Linked DNA regions of Homo sapiens. The protein of the gene in region 3 purifies or fractionates together with the protein of the main gene of each other region. This does not show direct contact. Each region holds a gene or a part of one and is shown on either strand. Other genes may lie near its edges.

Region 1 (3,500 bases), on a different chromosome or scaffold from region 3:
AATAATGAGGATTCCTTAACTTTTCTACCTCCCTCTTCCCATACAACATCTAGCTGAAATTCTCCATAGTTTTATAACAAGCACTGTACCCAGCTATAAAGAAGGAAATCCAGTCTTTTGAGATCTGGAGCCTACTTCAATGATTATATAATTTCTCTTAATTGTTTTTAATTATTTCCCAGGAGAGCATGGTTCATTAGAACCATCACCAAAAATTCCAGTCTGTTTCCTTCCAGTAAAATGCACTTAATGAGAAAATGTGTAGTCTGTACAAAGCACTGAAAAGTAGCTCAGCCAACCCCACCTTCCCAGCTACCCACTTGAAGAGCAGTGAGTATATTATCAAAGTTATGTAACAGCAATAACCACAGTCAAGCTGACCCTGAAATATTTCAGCATACCAGATCTTTCCACTGATGATCTGCACTTTACACTGCCAAAATGTGAAACTAAAGAATGTTGGTTCAAGGAACCATATCAGCAATGCCCTGTTTTAGATGGAATATGAAAACACCAATCAAAGCCATAGACTTCAGCTCTGATTTCCCACTGGTCTAGCATCCCTTTACTGCAGAAGAGTTGGGAAGTATGAATCAGCACAGTGAACTTGGTTATTATGAATCAGCACAGAGAACTTGGTTATTCTGCTGGGAAAAGGAGAGAGGAAGTCATACCGCATGCAATGGAAATCAATGTTATAAGTTCATAATGTGGTCTACTTGTTTGGTCCATAAGGATATTAATGTGCATGTCTCTCTCATTTGAGGTTTATTTTCTTAGAAGTACTAGCACTACCTCTCCCAGAACCTTAAAATTTTAAAAATCCCTTGAAAGCACCCAAGAAAACTAAATAATAAAGTATTTGTAAGTCTTATAAGTAGTAAAATGCCTCTGAACTGTTACAGCCACTTAAGGAAGCATTTAACTTGACAAAAATCTGTTGTAGACAAATATGGTACCCAGTCCAGGCTGTTAGAGTCTTCTCTCTTCACAGCCCCGAGTCCTTTGATTTTAGACAGATGGATGGTATTCTTTTATGAGGCAATTCTTTGTTGGTATTCCAATAAGGCTGACTTGCAACCATCTTCTTCAAAACTTTTCAAAATATTGATATATCATTAACTTGAAAAGAAAATACCATTTAAGAAATTAAAATCTCCCTGCATAATATTTAACTATGAAGTAATGACTGATTTTTAGACAAAGGTGTCAGAACTTATATATCCTAAAGGATGCTTCCCTTCCAGGATATATATTGTTACTCAAAAATATTTGAAACTTTTCCTTTGGAACTGCTTCCCAAGCCCATTTCAAGCCACAAACACAAATATTATTATTTTTAGTCACTTACTTAAACAAAAAAATCTAATATAGTTCACTATACGTATGACTAAAAAAAAAAAAACTTGCGGCCGGGCATGGTGGCTCACACCTGTAATCCCAGCACTTTGGGAGGCCAAGACAGGCAGATCACCTGAGGTCAGGAGTTCGAGACCAGCCTGGCCAACATGGTGAAACCCTGTCTCTACTAAAAATACAAAAATTAGCCAGATGTGGTGGCACTTGCCTGTAGTCCCAGCTACTCAGGAGGCTGAGGCATGAGAATCATTTGAACCCAGGGGGCGGAGGTTACAGTGAGCCAAGAACACACCACTGCACTCCAGCCAGGACAACAGAGCAAGACTGCCTCAAAAAAAGAAAAAAAGAAAAAAAAAATTGCAGCAGTCCAAAAATCATACCTACCATAAGAATTTAGTGAAGGCCCTCAAAGCATTTCCAAAAGAGGTACTCCAAGACCTCCCTGAGTGCTGCAACAAAGTGGCACAATGGACAGGAAGAGCAACCATTTAATCATTTCCAACAGATTATTGAACAATTGCTCTCATTCATAAGAAGTGACACCTCGTATTACCTAACTACATATTAGTTAGCTAGGGCCAACTTAAGATAAATTTTTTTTTAAGTATTCTACTATTTCCTCCTCTTTTGTCTTCTAGAATATGTTCTATGTGCATATACACACACTTACCATCTGGAGCATATTTTGAGGATATTCCTAAAATGATTGCAAGTGCAATAAAAAATGAGAAACTAGTAATAGCAAAACAAATGAAAGTATTTTTGTGTCTCTTTTGCTTTTGACTTTCTCTCTGGGCTTGCTGTTCTTCAGGTGAGAATGCGAAGGTTGCCCGGTCTTCTCGTCTGATGGAGGTAAATTTGGCTGAAGCTTGACTCTTTGGAGGAGGAGGGGGACGCAATGGGACAACCTTCCCTGGAACATAGCCAGATGGGTGACGACTATTTCCATTCTGAGGTTGGAGGAAAGCAGGGGAGTGTCCCCTGGAATCAGTGGCATACATGATACACTGTTACTGTGAAAAGAAAAAAAAATTAAGCTTCAGTATGTGTAAATTCTTTTTTAATTTCTTTTATTTATTTATTTATGAGATGGAGTTTCACTCTTGTTGCCCACACTGGAGTGCAATGGCATGATCTCGGCTCACCGCCACCTCTGCCTCCCAGGTTCAAGTGATTCTCCTGCCTCAGCCTCCCGAGTAGCTGGGATTAGAGGCATGCACCACCACGCCCAGCTAATTTTTTTTTTTTTTTTTAAGTAGAGACAATGTTTCTCCATGTAGGTTAGGCTGGTCTCGAACTCCCAACCTCAGGTGATCCACCCACCTCAGCCTCCCAAAGTGCTGGGATTACAGGTGTGAGCCACCGCAACTCGCCTTTAATTTCTATTTTTTAGAGACAGGGTCTCACTCTGTTGCCCAGACTGAAGTGCAGTGGCATGATCATAGATCACTACAGTCTCGCACTCCTGGGCTCAAGCAATCCTCCTGCCTGAGCCTCCCGGGTAGCCAGGACTACAGGTACATCCCACGATGATTGGCTAATTTTTAAATTTTTTGTAGAGATGGGATCCTGCTATATTGCCTAGGCTGGTCTCAAACTCCGGAGCTCAAGTGATTCTTCCACCTCAGCCTTGCAAAGTGCTGGGATTACAGGCGTGAGCCCCAGTATCCAGCTGGAATGTATGAATCATAAATGGTTTTTTTAAAGTACTTTTTAAATTGTGTTAAATATACCATAAACTTACATTTTAACTATGTTAAGCGTACAATTCAATGGCATTACGTACATTCACAAAGTTGTGTGACCATCACCACTATCCATTTTCAGAACTTTTTCATCATCCCAAACAAAAACTCTATATCCATTAAGTAACTCTCCATTTTTCCCAGCCCCTGGTAACCATCATAATGACTTCTTGAAAATATCAAGTCAGCTTACATCCCTGATCTAATAAACCATGTTGACAATCACCTTCATTACTTGTGTTCTAATGTCACTCCTTCTCAACCCTGGCTGCATAGTGTAATCACCCGCTAAGGTGAATGCTCAGGGCACCACGGCTAAACAATTCAATCAGGATTGCTGTCCCTGGGATCTAAGTATTTGCAGCTTTTAAATGCTCCCCAAGTGATTCTCATGAA
Region 2 (3,500 bases), on a different chromosome or scaffold from region 3:
TCTCTGCTCCCTTTGCTCTCTCTTCTTCTGGGGCTCCTACAATGTTTATGTTGGTTTGCTTGATGGTATCCCACAGACCCCTTAGGCTCTGATCACCTTTATTCAATCTTTTTATTTCTGCTCCTCAGACTCAATAATTTCCATTTTTGTATCTTCAAGTTCCCTGATTCTTTATTCTGCCTGCTGAAATCTGCCTTTGCATTTCTCTAGTGAATTTTAAATTTCAGTTATTGTACTTTTCAGCTCCAGAATTTCCCTTTGGTTTCTTTTTAAAATTTCTAGCTTTTTATTGATATTTTCATTTGTTCCTACATTTTCTTTCACTTTCTCCACATTTTCCCTTAGTTATTTGAGTATCTTTAAGATAGTTCTTTCAAAGCCTTTGTCTAGTAGATCTACCACCAAGTCTTTTTCAGTGACAGTTTCTGTTGTTTTTTTTTCCTTTGAAATAGGAAAGTTTCTTTGTATGCCTTGTGAAATCAAAATCTCTTTCTTCCCCAGAGTTTGCTGGTTTTTCTTGTTTTTATAATTTTGATTGTTGCTGTCTCTGTGCTAAGGATCAGCATAAAGTATAAACTTAAGGTCTTCTTAGGTCTTTTCTAAGCCCGTGACTTCCCCTGAGCATGTGCAATGACTTTTTTATTTTCTCCACATATATGGTTGCTTTTGAATGTGCTAGTCTTCAATGTCTACGTCTCAAAAGAGGAAAAAGAGAAAAATGAAGGGAGAAAAGGGTGCCAGCCCTTTAAATCTCCTGGAAGTCACTTCAACCAGACGGAGAAGGGCTTGCAATGACGGGGTTAGTTGCAACAACAAAGTCTGTGTCAATAGATTTTGAAAGATCTACATCATACAAGATATCTTTTCAGACCACAAAGGAGTAAAGTTAAAAATCAGCAACAAGGACATTTAAAAAATCACGAAATTAAACAACACCCTGTTAAATAACCAAGGATCAGAGAAGAAATCACAAGGGAAATTATAAAATACTTAGAGATGAGTGAAAATGAAAACACAAATTTAAAAACTTGTTCGACAGTGAAAGCAGTGCTAAGGGGGAAACTGATGGCTATACATGCTTATATTAAAAAAGACAGGTCTCAAATAGGAGCTTAACCTTACAATGTAAGGAACTAGAAAAAGAACAAGCTAGCAGAAAGAAGGAAAAAATAAAGATCAGAGCAAAGATAAACAAAATGGAGAACAGACAGATAATAGAGAAAATCAATGACAACAAAAGTTGGTTCTTTGAAAAGATAACAGAATTGACCAGCCTTAAGCTAGATTCTAGACTAAGAAAAAAAGAAGAAACTCAAATTACTAAAATTATAAGTGAAAGTGGCAACATTGCTACTAATTCTACAGAAATAAAAAAGATTATAAGAGTGTACTATAAGCAACTATATGTCAACAATTTGAATAACACAGATGGAATGGAAAAATTTCCAGACAGACAAAACCTATCAAGACAAAATCAAATCATGAAGAAATAGAAAATCTGAATAGACATAACTAGTAAGGAGATTGAATCAATACTCAAAAATCTCCTGACAAACAACCTCTGGACCTGATGGCTGCACTGGTGAATTCTACCAAACACATAAAGAACTAACACCAAACCCTCCCAAAATTTTCAAAAAACTTGAAGAGAAGGGAACACTATTTAACTCATTCTTATGAGGCCAGCATTACTCTGATACCAATACCAGACAAAGATATTGCAAGAAAAGAAAACTACAATCCAGTCTTCCTTATGAACATTGATGCAAAAATCCTAAACAAAATACTATTAATAGTAAACTAAATTTGGTATAATTTGATGCAATTAAATGGAATTTAATGAATTGACCAAGTAGGATTTATTTCTGGAGTGCAAGGATAGTTCAACATACAAAAAAAAAAAAATCAATCAATGTAATACACATTAACAGAATGAAGGAGGAAAAAAAACTCACACATGATCATTGCAGTTGATGCAGAGAAACCATATGACAAAATTCAATACCCTTTCATGATAAAAACACTCAACAAATTAGGAATAGAAGGAAACAACCTTAACATAATAAAAGCCATATTATACGAAAAAGCCACAGTGAACATCATACTCAGTGGTGAAAGACTGAAAGCTTTTCCTCTAAGGTCAGAAATAAAGGAAGGATGCCTGCTTTCACTACTTCTATTTAACACTGTACTGGAAGTTCTGGCCAGAGCAATTGGGCAAGAAAAAGAAATTAAAGGCATTCAAATTGGAAAGAAATAAGTAAATTATCTCTGATCACTGATGATATGATCTTGTATGTAGAAAACCCTAAAAATTCCACAAAAACTGTTACAACTAATAAACAAATTCAGCAAAATAGCAGAATACATAGTAAACACATAAAAATCACTTGTATTTCTATTCACTAACAATGAACAATCCAAAGGAAATTAAGAAAACAATTCTATTTACTATAGTATCAAAAATAATAAAATACTTAAAAATTGACTTAGGAGGTGAAAGACCTGTACAATGAGAACTACAAAACATTTCTGAAAGAAATTGAAGAGGACATTTAAAAAAAGACATTCATGTTCATAGATTGGAAGACTTACTATATTAAGATGTCAATACCACCCAAATTGATCTAGAGGTTTAATGTAATCCCTATAAAAATCCCAGTGATTGTTTTTTTTTTCAGAAATAGTGAATAAATCCTAAAATTTAGATGGAATCTCAAGGGACCTCGAATAGCCAAAAAAAAAAAAAAAAAAAAAAAAAAAATCGTGAAAGATAAGAACAAAGCTGGGGGACTCACATGTCCTAATTTCAAAACTTACTACAAAGCTGCAGTCATCAACAGTGTGGCACTGGCATAAAGACAGACATACAGACCAACAGAATAAAACAGAGAGTCCAGAAAGAAACCCTTGCATATATGACTTTCAATCAAGCCGTCAAGACCATTCGATAAAGACAGTCTTTTCAACAAACGGTGCAGAGACAACTAGATATCCACATGCAAAAGAATGAAGTTAGACCCTTACCTAATACCATATACAAAAATTAACTCAAAATGGATCTTTACGTTTTAAGACCTAAAACTTTAAAACCCTTAGAAGAAAACATAAGGTAACACCTTCGTGACATGGGACTGAGCAATGATTTCTTGGGTATGACAATAAGAAAAAATAGATAAATCAGATTACACCAAAATTTAAAAACATTTTTTGCATCTATCTAGTGAAAGGACATCATTAACAGAGTAAAAAGAACCCAGAGAATGAGAGAAAATATCTGTAAACTGTGTATCTAATAAGGGATTAATATCCAGAATATACAGAGAACTCCTAAAATTCAACAACAAAAAACAATCAACTTGATTCAAAAATAGGTCAAGGACTTAAACAGATATTTCTCCCAAGAGATATATAAATGGCCAACAAGCACATGAAAAGATGCTCAACGTCACTAATCATGAGGGAAATGCAAGTCAAAACCACAGTGAGATACCACCTCA
Region 3 (3,982 bases):
TGTCCTTAGGTAGACACTGCAGCAGAACTGTAAAGTTTTTCTGGAAGTCTGGGGAAGAGAGGAGGAAACAGAGAAGGGGCAAGAGGAGAAAATAGAATGAGGCTCAGAATACCAAGCCTTAGTGCTGTCCCTATCGCCTTCCTCGCTAGATCACTGGGTGATCCTGGGCAAGTTTCTTCCTTTCCCTCAGCTTATTTCCTCATCTGTAATGTAAGTGACTAGACAAGATAGCCTATGATGTTCATTGTAACTCTAACTTTTCCTTCCCAAAGCAAATAGCTGGAAAAGACACTGTGCTTACAATATGCAACAAATAAAAACAAAAGATTTTTAAAAACCCCTAGTGTAACTTGAATTCTTACAAATAAGCAATGGTACATCATAATTTTACAAAGCTCTTTTGTGATTTCATTTTTAAAATCAAGTCAAGTTTTATTTTACTTCATAATAAGATAATGGAGATAAGTGTTAAATGGGTTCATGAAGGAATGTTTGTAAAAGATGCAATAATCCAAAATAGGTAATTGTTATATTAGTAGTTCCCTTTACTTGGGTGGGGGGGGGGAACAGATAGAAGAGTGTTAGGAAAAGCTTCATAAAGTGGATTATATAGAATGTGCTTTAAAAGAGTTTGGTGTTTTACTGAGTGGGGAAAGAGCAATATGGGGAGTTATTGTTCAAGGGTTAAAGCTATAAAAAATGAATCAATTACAGAGATAGGCTCCAAACCATAGTACTTATAGTTAACAATAAGGTATTTTGTATTTAACAATTTGTTAAGAGGGTCGATCTTAGGGGTTCTGACAACAACAACAACCACAACAAAGGGACGTAGGAAACATTTGGAGGTGATGGATATATTATTACCTGGATATTGGTGTGGTAACAAGATAATACTTATGTGCAAACTTGCCAAACTATATCCATTAATTATGTACTTTTTGTGTATAACAATTTTACTTCAGTTCCTACTATATTGCCTGGCAAACAATAGATGTATAAAGTGAGATCAATGATTATTGCATATGCATGTCAAAAATAATAAAGAAAGCAGGTGACAATAAAGACATCCTGAATCTTTGGGAAATAAATAGCATTCACCTGCTTTCTCATCCATTGAGATATCACCACCTTTATGTACTTATGTGTCCCTGGAAGTTTCCCGTGGGAGATTTAGTTATTCTCTTTTCGTTAGGCTCTACTGACCAAGAACAAATCACAGACTCAGAGAGCATCATAAAAAGGCCTAGACCCACGATGCCCAGAGACTCCAGGCTCAACCCACATTGATGCTGGCCCTTCAGCCATGAGACTCCATTTGCTTCTCCTTATTCTCCTTCTTTTTTCAATTCTCTTATCCCCAGGTAAGTTGGTAGCTCATTACTATAAGGTTCTGCAGATGAGAATGCTATATCCCTGGCCAGACAAGAACCTAGAATCAGTCCTGTGGGTTCAAGAACCTAATATTTACAGCTTCACTAGGATTATAATAGGGAAAAATAGAAAAGAGACTCATTTAGCAGTATGTCCTCTTGATAAGATTCCATCCATGTCTTTTGACCTAGTGAGTGGATATAATAATGGATGCTGCTGAAATTCAATCCTGTCAGATGAAACTGCCTACATGTAAATTTCCATGCCCCACCAAGCACCTCAAGATACAAAGTAAGGATACAACAGAACATGACCTCAATGAGATGCCTTTGCGGGACATGGAAATTTATATGCAGGCAGTTAGATCTGACAGGATTGAATTTCGGTGGCATCTATTATTATATTCACTTAATAGGTCAAAAGAGATGGATGGTATCCTATCAATAGGAGCTACTCTAAATGGGTGTTGACAAATCTGAAGGTTTTATTCGAAGAAACAGAAAAACTATAATCCTAGAATAAATGAAAATTATATGAGAGACTTTTCAAAATAAATTATGTTTTATGTGGTTATGAATAAAAAATGATTTTCAAAGTGCAACTGAAGAGTAGAAAGGAGAGTTAAAGGAACTTCAGACAAGTGAATTAATAAGGAGCAAAGACACCAACAAGTGCTGCTCAAGGTATATTACAGGTAACCACACAGAAATGGGTAACATAACTTTCAATACAAAAATGGCTAAAATTTACTGGGCTAAGCATGCATTTTGGGGGCTTTTGGAAAAAAAAAACAGCATAATAAACCTAAAGAAGATAAAGGGAAAATTATAAATACAAAATATAAATTAATGAAACAAATGAGAAAAAACAGTATTTTAAAAAATGTTTTTCAAAAAGTCTAATACACTTTATAATAACCTGGCAACACTGAACAAGAGAAAATGAGAACATGCTTAAAATAACTATTGCAGGAATGAAAGGTTAATATCAAAACAGATGTTTCAGAGATTCAAATAATTTTTAAATTTGTGTATATTCCGTCTTCACTGTGTACTTGGGGATTTTCCTGTTGCAGTTCACTATATCATGACTGTGTCATCAATTTTGATGCTAGTAAATTATTACCATCAGCATACAAATATGCTGTTGTTTTTCTGATCTAAGAAAAAGAATTTCCTTGCTTTTCTTCTGATGCCAGCTGTCCTCCCCTTTTTTGCTCTACTTTTCAGCAAAACATCTTAGAATAGTTGTCCATATTCTCTGTCTTCAATTCCTCTCCTCTCATTGTTTCTTAAATATATCCCAATCAAGCTCTCATTGTTTCTTAAATATATCCCAATCAGGCTCTCTCCCCCTTTTTCGATCATGCTATTGACACCACTTTTGTCAAAGTTATGAATAATCTCCACATTGCTAGATCCAATGATCATTTTTCACTACAACTTTAATCGACCTATTAGCAGCATTTGACACAAATAATCACTTCCTTCTTCACAGTATACTTTCTTCATTTGGCTTCCAGGACGGCTCATTCACTTGATTCTCAGCCTGTCTCACTGGAGCTACCACTTCGGCTTCCTTTGTTTCTTCCTCATCTTTTGCTTCACACCTCCTACAGGAGAGCTCCAGAGCTCAGTTCCTGGTCCTCTTCTCTTCTCCCTCACCACACACTCTTTGGAGGGGCTCAGCAAGTCTCATCCCTTTCAATTCTCCTTTTGGACCTCCTTTTGAACTCCAGGCTTATAATAAATTATCCAACTGCATAACTGGTATATCTACTTGGACACTTGATTTCAAAAGTAATATATATCCAAAACCAGACTCACGATTTTCCCTCAGAAACCTCTACATACACATTTTTTCTCTTCTTGCAGAGTGCCATGGTCAGCATTGGAGCCTCTCTTAGCTTTCCTGTCCACTTTCATCCTCAGCAAGCCTCTATCTCTGCACCTCAAGAATCTCTCAGGGCTCCCATCCCTTGCCCAACCTCGGGCAGTAGCTGCCACACACTCAGTGAAAGACCAGAGAAACTACTTCTCTCAGCTACCGGCCCTGCCCTGCCTTCAGACCTCATCATGCCTCTCTTCTTATGCACCTGTGAGAACAGAGAGTGAAGGGGGGATTCTCTCAGCTCCCCAACCCACTCCCCAGTAACACAGGGTTTTCCTCGATTCTCACAGTGAGACCTTTACCTTGCTCTGACCTCAAATTGCACCAGTTCCTACATGCCTGTCCCTCAAAAGTGTCTCAGGTAGTTCTCCTGCTCTCCATCTGATCTTACCTAGGAGCACACAAGATAGGTCATGAAAAAACCATTAGTGGGGCCACACGCGGTGGCTCACGCCTGTAATCCCAGCACTTTGGGAGGCCGAGGCCGGCAGATCACGAGGTCAGTGGCTAACACGGTGAAACCCTTTCTCTACTAAATACAAAAAATTAGCCGGGTGCGGTGGTACATGCCTTTAGTCCCAGCTACTCGGGAGGCTGAGGCAGGACAATCACTTGAACCCTGGAGGCGGAGGTTGCGGTGAGCCGAGATCGTGCCATTGCACTCTAGCCTGGGCGACAGAGTGAGACTCCGTCAAAAAAAAAAAAAAAAAGAAGAAGA
Region 4 (3,500 bases), on a different chromosome or scaffold from region 3:
ACCATGCACAAAGTAAACTTTTTTTCTGAGACCGAGTTTCGCTCTTGTTGCCCAAGCTGGAGTGCAATGGCACGATCTCAGCTCACTGCAACCTCCGCTTCCTGGGTTCAAGAGATTCTCCTGCCTCAGCCTCCCGAGTAGCTGGGATTACAGGCACATGCCACCACACCTGGCTATTTTTTTGTATTTTTTAGTAGAAATGGGGTTTCACCATGTTAGCCAGGCTGGTCTTGAACTCCTGACCTCAGGTGATCTGCCCGCCTCGGCCTCCCAAAGTGCTGGGATAACAGGAGTGAGGCACCGCACCTGGCCAAAATAAACTTTTAAAGGTGAGCTACAGAATCTGATCATGTTGATAAATCCCCTTTCTTGTGAGAAGACACATGCTGAGTTTTGGTGTCACCTAACGGCATGTGGCCTCAGCGGACATCACCTCTGACATCCCCCACTTCCCTCACCTCCCATCTGAGTCTCATGAGAATGACTGGGGCAGCGGGTAAGAGAGGGGCACAGAGGACACTGAGTTCAAAGCCCAGGCCCACAACTTGCTGTCCAGGGGATACTGACCCAGTGAGCACAGTTCCTTGAGCCTCATGTTTCCCAAATGCAAACAGAATAAAAATATACCTCAGAGGGCGGCTCGGAAGACCAATGAGATTGAAACCCAGTAAAGTACACTGCAAACTGTAAAGCACATTCAGGCGCAGTCTTTTTATTTGCAATGACTCCTGCAGGCTGGCAATCTCTCCGGGAGCACCCTCCACCCGGAGAGGGAGCACCAAGATGACCACCCTCTTCCTCACAGGGTATGGCATCCTTGAGGGAACCTTGTTGCGACACTTTGCCAAAGGCTTACCCTACCTTTGTTTTTATCCATGTAACTTTGATTTCCTATTAAATCCATCCTATTAAAGCCACTCTCCTATTTCCCATAAGATTTTTTGGTTTCGTTTCTGTACCCCATCCAAATTATTTTCTTACCCTGGGATGCCTCAACCTAAAAGCAACATTTAGGCTGTCTCAGAGTTCTGTAAACTTGGCCTCCATTCCATCAATGTCCTACGAGAAGTAACCTCCAGCAGCACTCTACTGACTGGTGTATGTTTTCTATGTTTATTGAGTTCTAATTTATCATCCTTACACTGTGACCCATGGATAGGAGCTGTCCCAACCTCTACGGCTTGATTCTGGGCTAAAAATATTTTTAGGGCTCGCTGTACCCATTTCATTCCTTCTGGAACAATTGCAACTTCAACCCTCTAGATCCAGAATGGGGGTTACGAAGTGAGAGGCCTTCCAGAGTGCACCCCTCATCCCAGCTAGGGAATGATCAGGAATTTAGGTGCACAAGAAGCCTGCAGAGAGCCATGGAGCCAGAATGTCAAGCCAGCAAGGGCTGGGTGGAAGTCAGCAGCCTTGGGCTCCGCCAGGAACTCCATGGGACTGTGGAGGATCCACCTTTTTTCTAGGCTCAGTTCTCTCATCCATACAATTTGGAGGCTGAATTAGTTGTTCTGCTGTCCAGGGCCCCCTTTCACTCTAAAACCCCATGACTGGGTGAGATGTCTTCTCCCACTTCTGGTTTCCTCCTGACCCTGCCCAATACTCTCGGCTCCCCAGGCAAGGCTCATGTTCAGCTGGTCAGGAATGCTGCACAACCAACAGTGACAGAGCAGCCCTGATGCACAGAGCTCTGTGAGGGGCACAAAAATAGACGTGACCTGTGCCTCTCCCAAATGGAAATTAACAAGGTGAACTAACATGGAGAAGTAACACAGGAAAAGGCTCTAACGCAGACGTGATGACAAGCGGAACCAGCCACAGGGGAAGGCCAGCTCCCCGCGACAAGGGTGCCGTGTTCAAGAGGACAAGGACCACGGCCTGGCTGTGCCCACCTTCAGTTCCTCAGGAATGTGCTTCTCTTCTGGCAACTTCCTCACTTCCGGCATGGTTGTCAGGAACAGAAACTCCTGTTTGGCACTGTACACTGGAAGACAGAGAGGTTGAATGTCTTCTCTAAAAGGAAAAGGCACACAGGTGGATGGGACAGAACAGAGGCCCCAGAAATAGAAGCTCTCAAAGATGCCCAAATGCCTTTTGACAAAGCCATAAAAGCCATTCAGCGGAGGAGGGCAGTCTGTCCAACAAATGGTGCTGGGGCACCTGGACATTCACACACGGAACAAACCTTGATCCAAACCTCACCCCTTATTCAACAATGAACTCAAAGTGGATCACAGACCTGAATGTGAAACATAAAACCATCAATCTTTTTAAAAAACAACCAAAGAGAAAATCTACACTGTGAAAGCCCATTTGAAGAGGAGGAAAAGACAAGCTCCAGATAGGGAAAAAATATTTATGAACCACTTATCTGACCAAGGACTCCTATCTAAAATATATAAAGAATCCTCAAACTCAACAATTAAAAAACCAACCAATCTAATTAGAAAATAGGTACGATACACCCAGACATTTCACTGGAGAGTATCCGCAGATGGCAAATAAGTACATGCAAAGATGGTCAAGGCTGCAGAGACCTTCACATCACAGGCTCTGCCCTCAAGCGGCTCAGAACCAATGAGGAAGTCAACCAGGAGAGGAAAAACCAGCGCCTACAAACACAAACCAGGTCCACAAGGGCATCATTTTGAGTCTTGCCATATGATTCCATCACATTCCCTTCGCTGAGGGGGATTTATTTTCTTATGAGAAAGTCTAGTTACAACACCTGATCCTAGTTCAATATGATACTGAAATTTGCTAACTGAGGATAAATCATTGCCACAAATATCACTGGCTCCACTGCTGAGCTGAACAGAAACTGTAACACTAAAAAAAGTAAGTGTTGCTTTAAACAGCAACTCACGACAACCATGCTCTTCCTAGGGGCTCCAGTGGCAGGAGAAACCGGGAAAGGCAGGTAGGTGAGAAGAACATGCACACCACTGATGGGGGTTCTGAGGCTGGCCCTGTCCCAGAGGACAGAGCTGAAAGGAGCAGCCCGGGAGCACTGAGGCCAAGGCTTCTCCACGCACTTTCCAGGAAATGGAACTCCCCACCGTGGACACTGCCGTGTCTGTTATTTCCTGGTCTTGACACTTCACAATGGGCTTCTGGTTCATAATCAAAAACACCGTGAACGTGTGTGAAATAAACTCCAACATGTGAGAAGCCCTTTATGGCCACGAGCTTAGAGGGGTTCCTGTGCTGCCCAAGATCCAGGCTCCGGGACACACTCTCTAAAGCACAGTGCTGGAAGGGCAGGCTCCAGGGGAGAGGCCTACACCACCCCAGCCCAGGGCCTCTCTGACGCCTGCAGGGGCAGGCTCTGAGTGTAAATGCTCTTGATGCTTCAGCCCAGCGTCCTTGTGCACTGGCAAGATGCTGGGTGCCAGCTCGCATCCTGCATCCAGAACTCAGCTGGCGGATATCCACCTTCAGGATCCTAACCTAACCAGGTCCCTTGGGACAATTAGGTAACATCTCACGCGAGTGAG
Region 5 (3,500 bases), on a different chromosome or scaffold from region 3:
ACATATAATAGATAGAACTCCAGGACTGGAACATTCTTTTTTCTGTTCTTGCTCTTTACCAACGTGAGTTCTTCAATTCCCAGTTCATCTCCAAAATGCATATCTCCAACCCAAACATCTCCTAATCTTCAGACTCACTTATCAAGCTGCCTAATTTTTTTTTGTAGAAACAGGGTCTCCCTGTGTTGCCCAGGCTGGTCTTGACCTCCTGAGCTCAAGCTATCCTCCCACCTCAGCCTCCCAAAGTGCTGGGATTATAGGCATGAGCCACCACACCCCACCCCAGCTGCCTAATTGATATCACCACTTCCATCTCACAGATATCTCAAACTTTGTATGTCCTTTAAATTCTTTGAATAGCTGGATCCTGTTCATTCTTTAGGTCTCATACATCCCAGAGAAGGCTTCCCTGTCCACACTGTCTAACGTAGGTCTCTCTTGTCCTTCTGTATCTCGGATTTTTTTCAAAGCACACGTCATAATTTGTAATTATTCATAGTTTATTTGCCAGTATACTTTTTGCCTCTCCCACTAGACTGTAAGCTTCATGGGGCCTAAGACTCTGTTTTATTCACCATTGCATCCTCAGATTTTGCAGTGTCTGGCACATAGTTAAGTATTCAATAAATACTTAGTCAGTTCATCATCCCCCAAAAGAACATTCCAGGAAGTCCTTTATTTACTGTAGTTAAATGAATCCAAGTGTAACGCTGCACTGAATTCTAGCTATTTATGTACCAGATACTGGAAACACCCTCTATACTTGTTTTGTTTTTATCTTTGGAGGATTCTTAAAATCATATTGAAGTCTTCTGCTATTGTAAATTTTATGGTTAAAGAAAATAATTTTCTTCTTTGGTAATGTAATCAATGCTAATTAAATTTCTTTATTTCCAGGATGGAAGGTTAACATTTCATCCAGGAAGTCAGGTAGTGAAACTTCCTTTTATCAACTTTATGAAGACACGTGGGACTTCCTTTCTGAATGCCTACACAAACTCTCCAATTTGTTGCCCATCACGCGCAGGTATGAACATCCTTAATATGAATGGGAGAAAGTGGCTACACACTGAAAATATATTCACAGTTTAAAAGATTATACCTAAAAGTAGAATAGTTGTATTTGGCCTCAATAAAATTGTTTTAATATAAAAGATGTGCATTTTAAGGTATATATTGGCTATTGGGGTTGTTCAAATTGTATTTTTCAAGAGTAGGAATTTTTATCATTTAGAAAGGTGTCTAGTTCATGTGTTACCGTTTTATTTCCTTGTGACTGGGGACTAAGAATCTTTTGGCCATCCAAGAAAATGAGGGAATACTCATATTTCCTAGAAGAGTTCTGTTTCCAGGGAAATTTTTCAGTAACGGTATAGGTAATTGGGAGGACTTCTATGAACATTAGAGTATACCATAAAGTAGTTACAACTTATATTCAGATTTACCTGAATTTTTTCTTATTATTTCAGATTACATACTTTACCTCTTTCTTTCCGTCTCAATTCACTTTTATCCCAAGTCAAATTGTTCACTTTTATTATAATAATTTAACAAATAGGCATAGTTTTATTGGCAGAATGTCAGTGACATTAAGCCATGAATAATTAACAAATAGGAAAAAACTGCCATTTTTATAAATTCTATCTATTGTCTGATGGTTGTTTTCCTTTTCCCCTGTCTTCTGGTTTATGTTTGTTGCCTTGGAACACATAAATGGCACTCAGTGATTTGGTTTGTCTGTAAATGAGATGATTTTCTCTGTGATTTGAGTTATAACTTCTTTCACCTATATTTTCAACACTAACAACTATATTATTACCAGTGATGAAAAGAAACTAAACTATATTGTAAATGATATTTCAATAATGAAGGACCAGGCATATTAAAAAACAGTTTTGTTAACTGTAAAGTAGAATGAGCAGTGGGCTAGGGTGAGACAATGACCTGGATGCTAATCCTCAAGCAAGTCACTCAGTCTTCTTATCTGCAAATTGCTGTGTATACTGTGTACCTCACAGGGTTGTTCTGAGCATCACATTAAATAACGAATGAGAAAGTGGCCAATGAACCCTAGATGTCTCAAAATGTTAGATGTTGTTTTTCCTGGAAGAAGTATATTTTGAAGAGTAAGCAAGGTCAAATAATTTGTCAAAGACCACTCAGTAACTGGTGTTATTGGGATTCAAACCCAGGTAATCCCCCATCCCACCTCTCAGAAAACATCTTGCTAGATGAAAACAGAAAGCTTATTCTAACTTTCTATTTATGTACACAGAAATGGGAAAAGGAAAAAAAGTGTTTATTGAATAAACAATCATAGTTGTAGAAAGTGAGAGATAAGGCATAACACACTACGTTTTTTGTGGAAAGCCAGCAAAAGGACAGGGAATAAGGGAAGATCCTTAAGGATGTTGGGGAAATGAGATCTGTACTTCAATTGTCTGATTTAGAAAATTAACCAATAAATACTTAGGGATTGTTTTTATGATTGAAAGAGGCCTCTAGTCACACATGCTTTGTATTTAATTCCAGCTGTATTTACCTTAAGTAACTTAAGCACTAAGCGTTAGTCAACTCATCTGTAAAATGGAAATAGTAACTCCCCACAGAGTATCACTCTGATAAAATGAGGTAACAATCAGAAATGTTTGGTAAGGCACCTAATCTGGGTACGTCTTACTGCAGAGCATAAGCTCTTCACTAGTGGACTGCTCTCTCAGAGTAATTGTCCTAATAGTTAAATTGTTAAGCTTTACCTTAATCCCAATTCCTTTTTTTTTTTTTCTCAGCAATGTGGAGTGGCCTCTTCACTCACTTAACAGAATCTTGGAATAATTTTAAGGGTCTAGATCCAAATTATACAACATGGATGGATGTCATGGAGAGGCATGGCTACCGAACACAGAAATTTGGGAAACTGGACTATACTTCAGGACATCACTCCATTAGGTAAAAATAAAACAAAAATAATCATCATGGACTGCCCTCTGCCATAGCGTGTACATGTACTCTTTTTGACTTTAATTTTTTTATTTTTCCACAAAGGTGAAAGTAAATCTCTTAATCCCTTCATTGTGTTAATTAGGCTGAAATTTTAGCTTTCTTTCATCTTCCTAAAACATTAAAATGGCTAATATACTAGTCATTTTGTTTTTCTTAAGCATTAAAGGTCTATAAATAGTGTTTGTAAACTCGTTTAGCCCACGCTTTATTTTCATTGAATTTCCTTTAATGGCTACTGTATTATTAATTTTAAAATCTGTTTTTAAAACCATAGCCTTCTTGCTGCTTTCGTTGGTCAGTTCTCTCTAACTTGAGTCTATTGTAACTTTTTTTTTTCTTTCATTTTACTAAGTCCTCAAAAACCAGGCAGCCAAGCATAGTGGTTAAGAGTAGAGGTCAAGAATCAGATTGCCTGCTTTTGAATTATAGTTTCTGTTTACTACTAGCATTGTAGTAGTCTGATCTTGGACACATTGTCTAAATGTTGACACTGTACT
Region 6 (3,500 bases), on a different chromosome or scaffold from region 3:
TTCACAAGAATATAAATATTCTGAAAGACTCCTGTACACATTAGAATCTTTCGTGGTATAAACGGAAAAGGTAAATATGCTTAAAATTATGATTTAAGAATAAATTCCACTGATAAACAGAGATAATGAATTTAAGGAGGCTGTACATTTTTTTCTCCAATTATGATGCAATGATAGGTTTTACAGGATTGTAAGACAGATGATTCATAATATGAAATCTTGTATCAAACCAAAGAAAAAGCAATATAGAAATGGCACTAACCTAATTTCTTATCACATACAAATGGTATGGCAAAATGTTCATGTTTTACAGTTTTTCGCTATGTGGCACTAGATTACCGAGAGTGAAAAGGGAAGAATTATGGGGAAGCTGTGACATGTACTATAATAACATTCCTATGCTAAAAGCGACAGATTTTAGAAAACTGCCAAAGGTTTTATTTTAAATGGCATTATTAATAATGCATATTCAAAGAAACACCAGATATAATTGTGACCAATACATAATATTTCAAGACCCTGACTTTAAAAAAAAAAATTAGCTAGGCATGGCAACATGCTCCTATAGTCCCAGCTATTCAGGAGGCTAAGGTGGGAGGGCTGCTTGAGCCCAGGAGTTTGAGGGTACAGTGAGCTATGATTCTGCCATGGTACTTTACCCTGGGCAACAGAGCAAGACCCTGTCTCCAAAAAATGAATATATATAAAAATATATTTCATATAAATATGAGATATCATATAATATATATGACATATCATATGATATATATTATATGATATATATGATATATAATATTATGATATATCATATATCTATATATCATATATATTCATATATAATATACATGATATATATTATATGCGATATACATAATATATATAAAGACTTCAAAGAATAATATAAAAGAAATATCTAATTATTTGAAAGTATATTTGGAATTGCATTTTCTAAGAGAATCAAAATAAAATGTTGGGTTTGTTTCCTGGTATAATTCAGAAGACTATTTGGTTCATAATGCATATTTAAATCCACAGCATATTTACAATGAAAATTTATTTAAAGAGACTACTGAAGAAACAATATTTTAAACAGCAAAACTACATAATAACCATAAACTATTGTGAACACTGGTTTAATTTAAAAATAAGCAAGTAGAATAATTCTATTCAGTGGAGCTAAACCTTTGCTAAAAATTTCCAAGGAGTTTCTAAATTTCAGGAATTTGAAAGGCAAAAAGCACCAATTTTATTATGTCTAATGTCAGATCAAAGTTTATGACTTTTCCTTCTTGATGCAGGTATTACACTGACACTAAATTCAAACAGGCTTAGATATTGTTTCTTGGCCTACAAATGTGCCCGTGTTCCATGCAAAACCAGCAGGGGATTTTTCTGCTGCCAGAGGTTACCAAATCAGAGGAAGGAGGCTGGGCGTGGTGGTTCACGCCTGTAATCCCAACACTTTGGGAGGCCAAGGAGGGCAGATCACCTGAGGTCAGGAGTTCGAGACTAGCCTGGGCAGAGTGATACCCTATCTCCCCCACAAAAAGCCAGGCATGATGAAATGCACCAGTACTCCTAGCTACTTGGGAGGCTGAGGCAGGAGGATTGCTTAAGCCCAGGAATTCAAGGCTGCAGTGAGCTATGATCTCACCACTGCACTTCAGCTTGGGTGACAGAGCAAGACCCTGCCTCTAAACAAATAATCTATGAAAGACCCCAATCATCCAGAAATGCGGAAAATTCATTTACTTATGTTTTCCTATTTGATTTTTAAAACATTAACTCCTTATTGCATCTAGTATTTTGGTACTTGGGTGAAAATTATTGATTTTTCCCAAAATGGCAAATCAATTGTTTAGAATCATTTATTAAATATATGCATAGATTATTTAGATGTTGCATTTGTTCTAAGTCAAAATTAAAAAATGTTTTACTGAAAGTATTATGTCTAATAAATGATCTACCACTGCAAAAATATTAAACGCCTCTGCCATAACTAATTTTTAAAGCACATCTATTTGCAGATTAAGATATAATAATGTATGGTATATTTCAAAATAAGTAAATTTCAAATGTCTCACAATAAATGATAGGCAAGAAAGGTGATCAATATGCTAATTATGTTAATTAGCTTGATTTAAACATTCCACATTGTACACATACACCAAAACATCACATTGTACCCCATAAATGTATACAATTATGATCTGTCAATAAAAAATAATCTTATTAAAAAATTTTTTTAAAGATGTATTAAATCCTTTTTCTGCAGACAGAACACATCTTACCAAGCCTGAGTTTTGAGATTTGACTCAGAAAGTAGTACCATATATTTCTTGATTTACCTCCATTAATTTTTCTTAAGCTTTACTGAAGCTCCAAATTACAGTCCAACTGCTCAATACCAACCTTCTTGAGGTCAATTTTATAATAACAATACTTACCAACAGCAAGGAGAAGAATACTGGCTACAAAACAGCCTGCACCCACACTGAGGTAATAAACACCTACTCTCATTTCTGCTGGCCAAAGGGGGAAGAGGGTGGCCGCTATTACTGCAATCACTGGAACAAGAAATGACAAAAGTTAAATTTTAGAATAAAAACTTAAATGGTATGGCTGCACTAACAGAAACATATCCCTGGGGGAAAAACTGAGAAACATAAACACAGTGAAATATAAAATTGCCATTTTTATAGGTAAAAAATGGTCAATTATGAGCAATTTCATATTGTTCAACCTAACATTTTATACTATTCTTAAACTAGTTTTTATTAGTGTAAATTACATATAATTAGAAAAAAATGCTATGTAGAAATTCAAAACTGTTGCCTCCTTAATTTATCAACTGCCCCCTTTTTCAAGCTATATCTACTTTATTTAAAAAATACTAAGATATTTGCCTACTAAGTAAGGGAGCTAAAAGAAACAACAGAACAACAAAGCCAACAAAAAATGATTTCCAAGACCCCTCTCTGGAGATTCTTCTTCTGGGGTGGAGCTCTGACATCCACAGACTGAAAGATTCCCCAGGTGATTTCTGCTACAGATGTATTTTTTGGTGCTTAGGGAAACTGTTTACAAGTGTCTCCAGTTTTTTTGCAAGTAAAGTGGGGACACAAGAAAGAATTATAAGAAATTAGAAGCCTGGTTATTAGGTCTTTAGAATAAGACCAGGATTAAAATTCTAGCTCCATCACTTATAAGCTATGTAACCCTGGGCAAGTTACTTAACTCTTTTGAGGCTAAGTTACCTTATATTTAATAAGTCTCTTCCTATTCTTCAAAGGTTGTTGTGAGGATGAAATGATATATTGTACGCAAAATATCTAGCAAAGTGACTAGTACTCTTATTATAAAAGAGTTATTTTGCTTTTTGTTTTCTGAAACAGAGTCTTACTCTGTCACCCAGGCTGCAGTACAGTGGCATGATCTTGGCTCACGACAGCCTCGACCTCCTGAGCTTAGGTGATCCTCCCACCTCAGCCTTCTAAGTA
Region 7 (3,500 bases), on a different chromosome or scaffold from region 3:
AAAAACACATGTATATATAGAAACCTAGATTCCTATGTATGTCTGCATATTATAAACACTTTTAAGATAAGTATACGGTTTCGAAAGACAACTACACAATCATAATTACTTTTAAAGAAAATGTGCATGCCCACAGGTCTATAAAGTTACTTCCTATTACCTGTGAAATGGTCTCTAAAGATATACACTATACATATAGCAAAACAGAATAATTGCTTTAAATCTAACTGAGGGCTGGACAAGGCAGCTCACACCTGTAATCTCGGCATTTTGAGAGGCCGAGGCAGGAGGATCATTTAAGGTCAGGAGTTTGAGACCAGCCTCGCCAACATGGTGAAACCCTGTCTCTACTAAAAATAAAAAATTAGCTGGGTGTGGTGGCAGGTACCTGTAATCTCAGCTACTCGGGAGGCTGAGGCAGGAGAATCACTTGAACCCGGGAGGCAGAGGTTGCAGTGAGCTGAGAACGTGCCACTGCTTTCCAACCTGGGCAACAGAGTGAGACTCTGCCTCAAAAAAAAAAAAAAAAAGAAAGAAAGAAAAAATAGTAATAATAGGGCTGGGCACAGTGGCTCACACCTGTAATCCCAGCACGTTGGGAGGCCAAGGCAGGTGGATCACCTGAGGTCGGGAGTTCAAGACCAGCCTGACCAACATGGAGAAACCCCGTCTCTACTAAAAATACAAAACTGGCCAGGCATGGTGGCCCATGCCTGTAATCCCAGCTACTTGGGAGGCTGAGGCAGGAGACTCACTTGAACCCAAGAGGCAGAGGATTTGTGATGAGCCGAGATTGAGCCGTTGCACTCCAGCCTGGGCAACAAGAGCGAAACTCCGTCTCAAAAAAAAAAAAAAAAAAAAAAAACCACGCACACACAAAAATTATCCAGGCATGGTGGCAGGCACCTGTAATCCCAGCTACTCAGTAGGCTGAGGCAGGAGAATCACTTGAATCTGGGAGGTGGAGGTTTCAGTGAGCCGAGATTGCGCCACTGCACGCCAGCCTGGGTGACAGAGCAAGACTCTGTCTCAAAAAAACCATAATCATAATTATAAAATAAATCTGACACATTTTTCCATAACTTTGAGAAAAATTTTCCAGAGCTTCACAAAATATATCAATGTCAAATACTTACAGTTTGTAATATGAATGCAGAAAATAGATGGATTAATCTGGTCAACAAGTTCAAATACTCTTTGAGGTGGGTTTGCTGTAAAATTCAATGAATAGATGACTGCTTTTTGACTACAAAACTGGCTGTCGCCCCTGAAAATTAAAAAAATAATAATACAAAGTTACAAGACATAAGCACACAATCTTAGCAAAATTATTTTAAAACTGTCAGATGCTTGTACTGTACTATGTTAACAGTTACGTGGAGGATATTTATGAAAGCATGACGTCCCAGCTACTTGGGAGGCTGAGGCGGGAGAATGGCATGAACCCAGGAGGCAGAGCTGGCAGTGAGCCAAGATCGCGCCACTGCACTCTAGCCTGGGCAACAGAGCAAGACTCTGTCTCACAAAAAAAAAAAGAAAGAAAGAAAGAAAAAAGAAAGCATATTAGAATTGAATCCGGCTGGGCACGGTGGCTCACACCTGTAATCCCAGCACTTTGGGAGGCCGAGGTAGGCGGATCACAAGGTCAGGAGATGGGGACCAGCCTGGCCAAGATGGTAAAACCCCATCTCCACTAAAAATACAAAAATTAGCTGGGCGTGGTGGTGGGTGCCTGTAATCCCAGCTACTAGGGAGGCTGAGGCACGAACATCGCTTGAACCCAAGAGGCAGAGGTTGCAGTGACCCGAGATCGCGCCACTGCACTCAAGCCTGGTGACAGAGTGAGACTCCATCTCAAAAAAAAAAAAAAAATTGAATCCTTTTTTTTGAGATGTAGCCTCACTCTCCCAGGCTGGAGTGCAGTGGCACGATCTCGGGTCACTGCAACCTCTGCCTCTTGGGTTCAGGTGATTCTCCTGCCTCAGCCTCCCGAGTAGCTGGGACTACAGGTGTGCACTGCCATGCCTGGCTAATTTTTGTATTTTTATTAGAGACAGGGTTTCACCATGTTGGCCAGGCTGGTCTCAAACTCCTTACCTCAGATGATCCACCTGCCTCAGCCTCCCAAAGTGCTGGGCATGAGTCACCACAGCTGGCTGAATCCATTTTTATTTAGTTTATTCTGTGTTGAAATATTTTGCATTTGGGCCAGTCACAGTAGCATGCACCTGTATTACCAACTACTCAGGAGGTTAAGATGCAAGGCTCACTTGAGGTTAGGAGTTCGAGGCCAGTCTGGCAACATAGTGAGATCCTCATCTCTTTTTAAAAAAGAAAAAGCTTGGCATTTAAAACTTTTTCCTCTAACAGAAAAAAACAAAATTGAGACAAGTAGAATAACCTTTAAGGAAATCTTGTCAAGAACGTAGATCAGGGTATAATTTTTATGTCAGTGAACTTTACAAACTCTGATAGCATCAATTAGATAAAATTTTGCAGACCTTCAGATTGTTTAAAAGTACCCAGAATAGATCCAAATTCCTTGTCTTTAGAATAAAGCTGTCTTCAAAGGACTGTGAGAGTAAGAAAATGTGGAGTCATCTGGAAGGTTTAATGCTTAGAAGTTATGGTACAGGGCCAGGCACAGTGGCTCATGCCTCTAATCCCAGCACTTTGGGAGGCCGAGGCGGGTGGATCACCTGAGATCAGTCGTCTGGAAGGTTTAGTGCTTACAAGTTATGGTACAGGACCAGGCACAGTGGATCATGCCTGTAATCCCAGCACTTTGGGAGGCCGAGGTGAGCGGATCACCTCAGGTCAGGCATTCAAGACCAGCCTGGCCAACATGGCGAAACCCTGTCTCTACTAAAAATACAAAAATAAATTAGCCAGGCGTGGTGGCATGTGCCTGTAGTTCCAGCTGCTGGGGAGACTGAGGCAGGAGTATTGCTTGAACCTGGGAGGTTGCAGTGAGCCAAGATCGTGCCACTGCACTCCAGCCTGGGCGACAGAGTGAGACTCTCTCTCCCAAAAAAAAAAAAAAAAGAAGTTATGAGTTAAGTCTTCAACCAATCCCAGATTTGACAAATCCCAATCAATTTGCTATAGATACAGATACAGGCCAAGCACCATGGCTCATGCCTGTAATCCCAGCATTTTGGGAGGCTGAGGAGGATCACTTGAGGCCAGGAGTTCAAGACCAGCCTGGGCAACACAGACCCCTATCTCTACAAAAAACAAAGAAAAAATTAGTCCGGCATGCTGGCAGATGCCTGTAGTACTAACTACTTGGGAGGCTGAGGTAGGAGGACTGCTTGAGCCCAGGAGCAAGGTTACAGTGAGCTATGATCGTGTCACTGCACTCCAGCCTGGGTGACAGAGCAAGACCTATCTCAAAAAAACATAGAGGCTGGGCACAGTGGCTCACGCCTACAATGCCAGTACTTTGGGAGGCCATGGCAGGAGGATCACTTGAAGCCAGGATTTCAAGACCAGCCTGG

What was found.
Region 1: the proteins of DEFB109B (region 3) and CEMIP2 purify together in Homo sapiens (affinity purification with mass spectrometry; one large-scale study listed by BioGRID and IntAct). This does not show direct contact.
Region 2: the proteins of DEFB109B (region 3) and COL6A2 purify together in Homo sapiens (affinity purification with mass spectrometry; one large-scale study listed by BioGRID and IntAct). This does not show direct contact.
Region 4: the proteins of DEFB109B (region 3) and CHST10 purify together in Homo sapiens (affinity purification with mass spectrometry; one large-scale study listed by BioGRID and IntAct). This does not show direct contact.
Region 5: the proteins of DEFB109B (region 3) and ARSK purify together in Homo sapiens (affinity purification with mass spectrometry; one large-scale study listed by BioGRID and IntAct). This does not show direct contact.
Region 6: the proteins of DEFB109B (region 3) and SEC62 purify together in Homo sapiens (affinity purification with mass spectrometry; one large-scale study listed by BioGRID and IntAct). This does not show direct contact.
Region 7: the proteins of DEFB109B (region 3) and TCTN1 purify together in Homo sapiens (affinity purification with mass spectrometry; one large-scale study listed by BioGRID and IntAct). This does not show direct contact.

Annotation. Positions count from the first base shown.
Region 1 is NC_000009.12:71,748,014-71,751,513, forward strand, and holds part of CEMIP2 (cell surface hyaluronidase CEMIP2), read right to left. Parts: intron 2,373-3,500; 5' UTR 2,361-2,372; coding exon 2,030-2,360; intron 1-2,029. UniProt on the Homo sapiens protein: Cell surface hyaluronidase that mediates the initial cleavage of extracellular high-molecular-weight hyaluronan into intermediate-size hyaluronan of approximately 10-5 kDa fragments.
Region 2 is NC_000021.9:46,101,112-46,104,611, reverse strand, and holds part of COL6A2 (collagen alpha-2(VI) chain isoform 2C2 precursor), read right to left. Parts: intron 1-3,500. UniProt on the Homo sapiens protein: Collagen VI acts as a cell-binding protein.
Region 3 is NC_000008.11:7,311,540-7,315,521, forward strand, and holds the start of DEFB109B (beta-defensin 109B precursor), read left to right. Parts: upstream 1-1,182; 5' UTR 1,183-1,306; coding exon 1,307-1,364; intron 1,365-3,982. UniProt on the Homo sapiens protein: Has antibacterial activity.
Region 4 is NC_000002.12:100,400,669-100,404,168, forward strand, and holds part of CHST10 (carbohydrate sulfotransferase 10), read right to left. Parts: intron 1,988-3,500; coding exon 1,896-1,987; intron 1-1,895. UniProt on the Homo sapiens protein: Catalyzes the transfer of sulfate from 3'-phosphoadenylyl sulfate (PAPS) to position 3 of terminal glucuronic acid of both protein- and lipid-linked oligosaccharides.
Region 5 is NC_000005.10:95,565,101-95,568,600, forward strand, and holds part of ARSK (arylsulfatase K precursor), read left to right. Parts: intron 1-897; coding exon 898-1,027; intron 1,028-2,789; coding exon 2,790-2,949; intron 2,950-3,500. UniProt on the Homo sapiens protein: Catalyzes the hydrolysis of pseudosubstrates such as p-nitrocatechol sulfate and p-nitrophenyl sulfate. Catalyzes the hydrolysis of the 2-sulfate groups of the 2-O-sulfo-D-glucuronate residues of chondroitin sulfate, heparin and heparitin sulfate.
Region 6 is NC_000003.12:169,987,307-169,990,806, reverse strand, and holds part of SEC62 (translocation protein SEC62), read right to left. Parts: intron 2,568-3,500; coding exon 2,448-2,567; intron 1-2,447. UniProt on the Homo sapiens protein: Mediates post-translational transport of precursor polypeptides across endoplasmic reticulum (ER). Proposed to act as a targeting receptor for small presecretory proteins containing short and apolar signal peptides.
Region 7 is NC_000012.12:110,624,129-110,627,628, reverse strand, and holds part of TCTN1 (tectonic-1 isoform 1 precursor), read right to left. Parts: intron 1,268-3,500; coding exon 1,137-1,267; intron 1-1,136. UniProt on the Homo sapiens protein: Component of the tectonic-like complex, a complex localized at the transition zone of primary cilia and acting as a barrier that prevents diffusion of transmembrane proteins between the cilia and plasma membranes.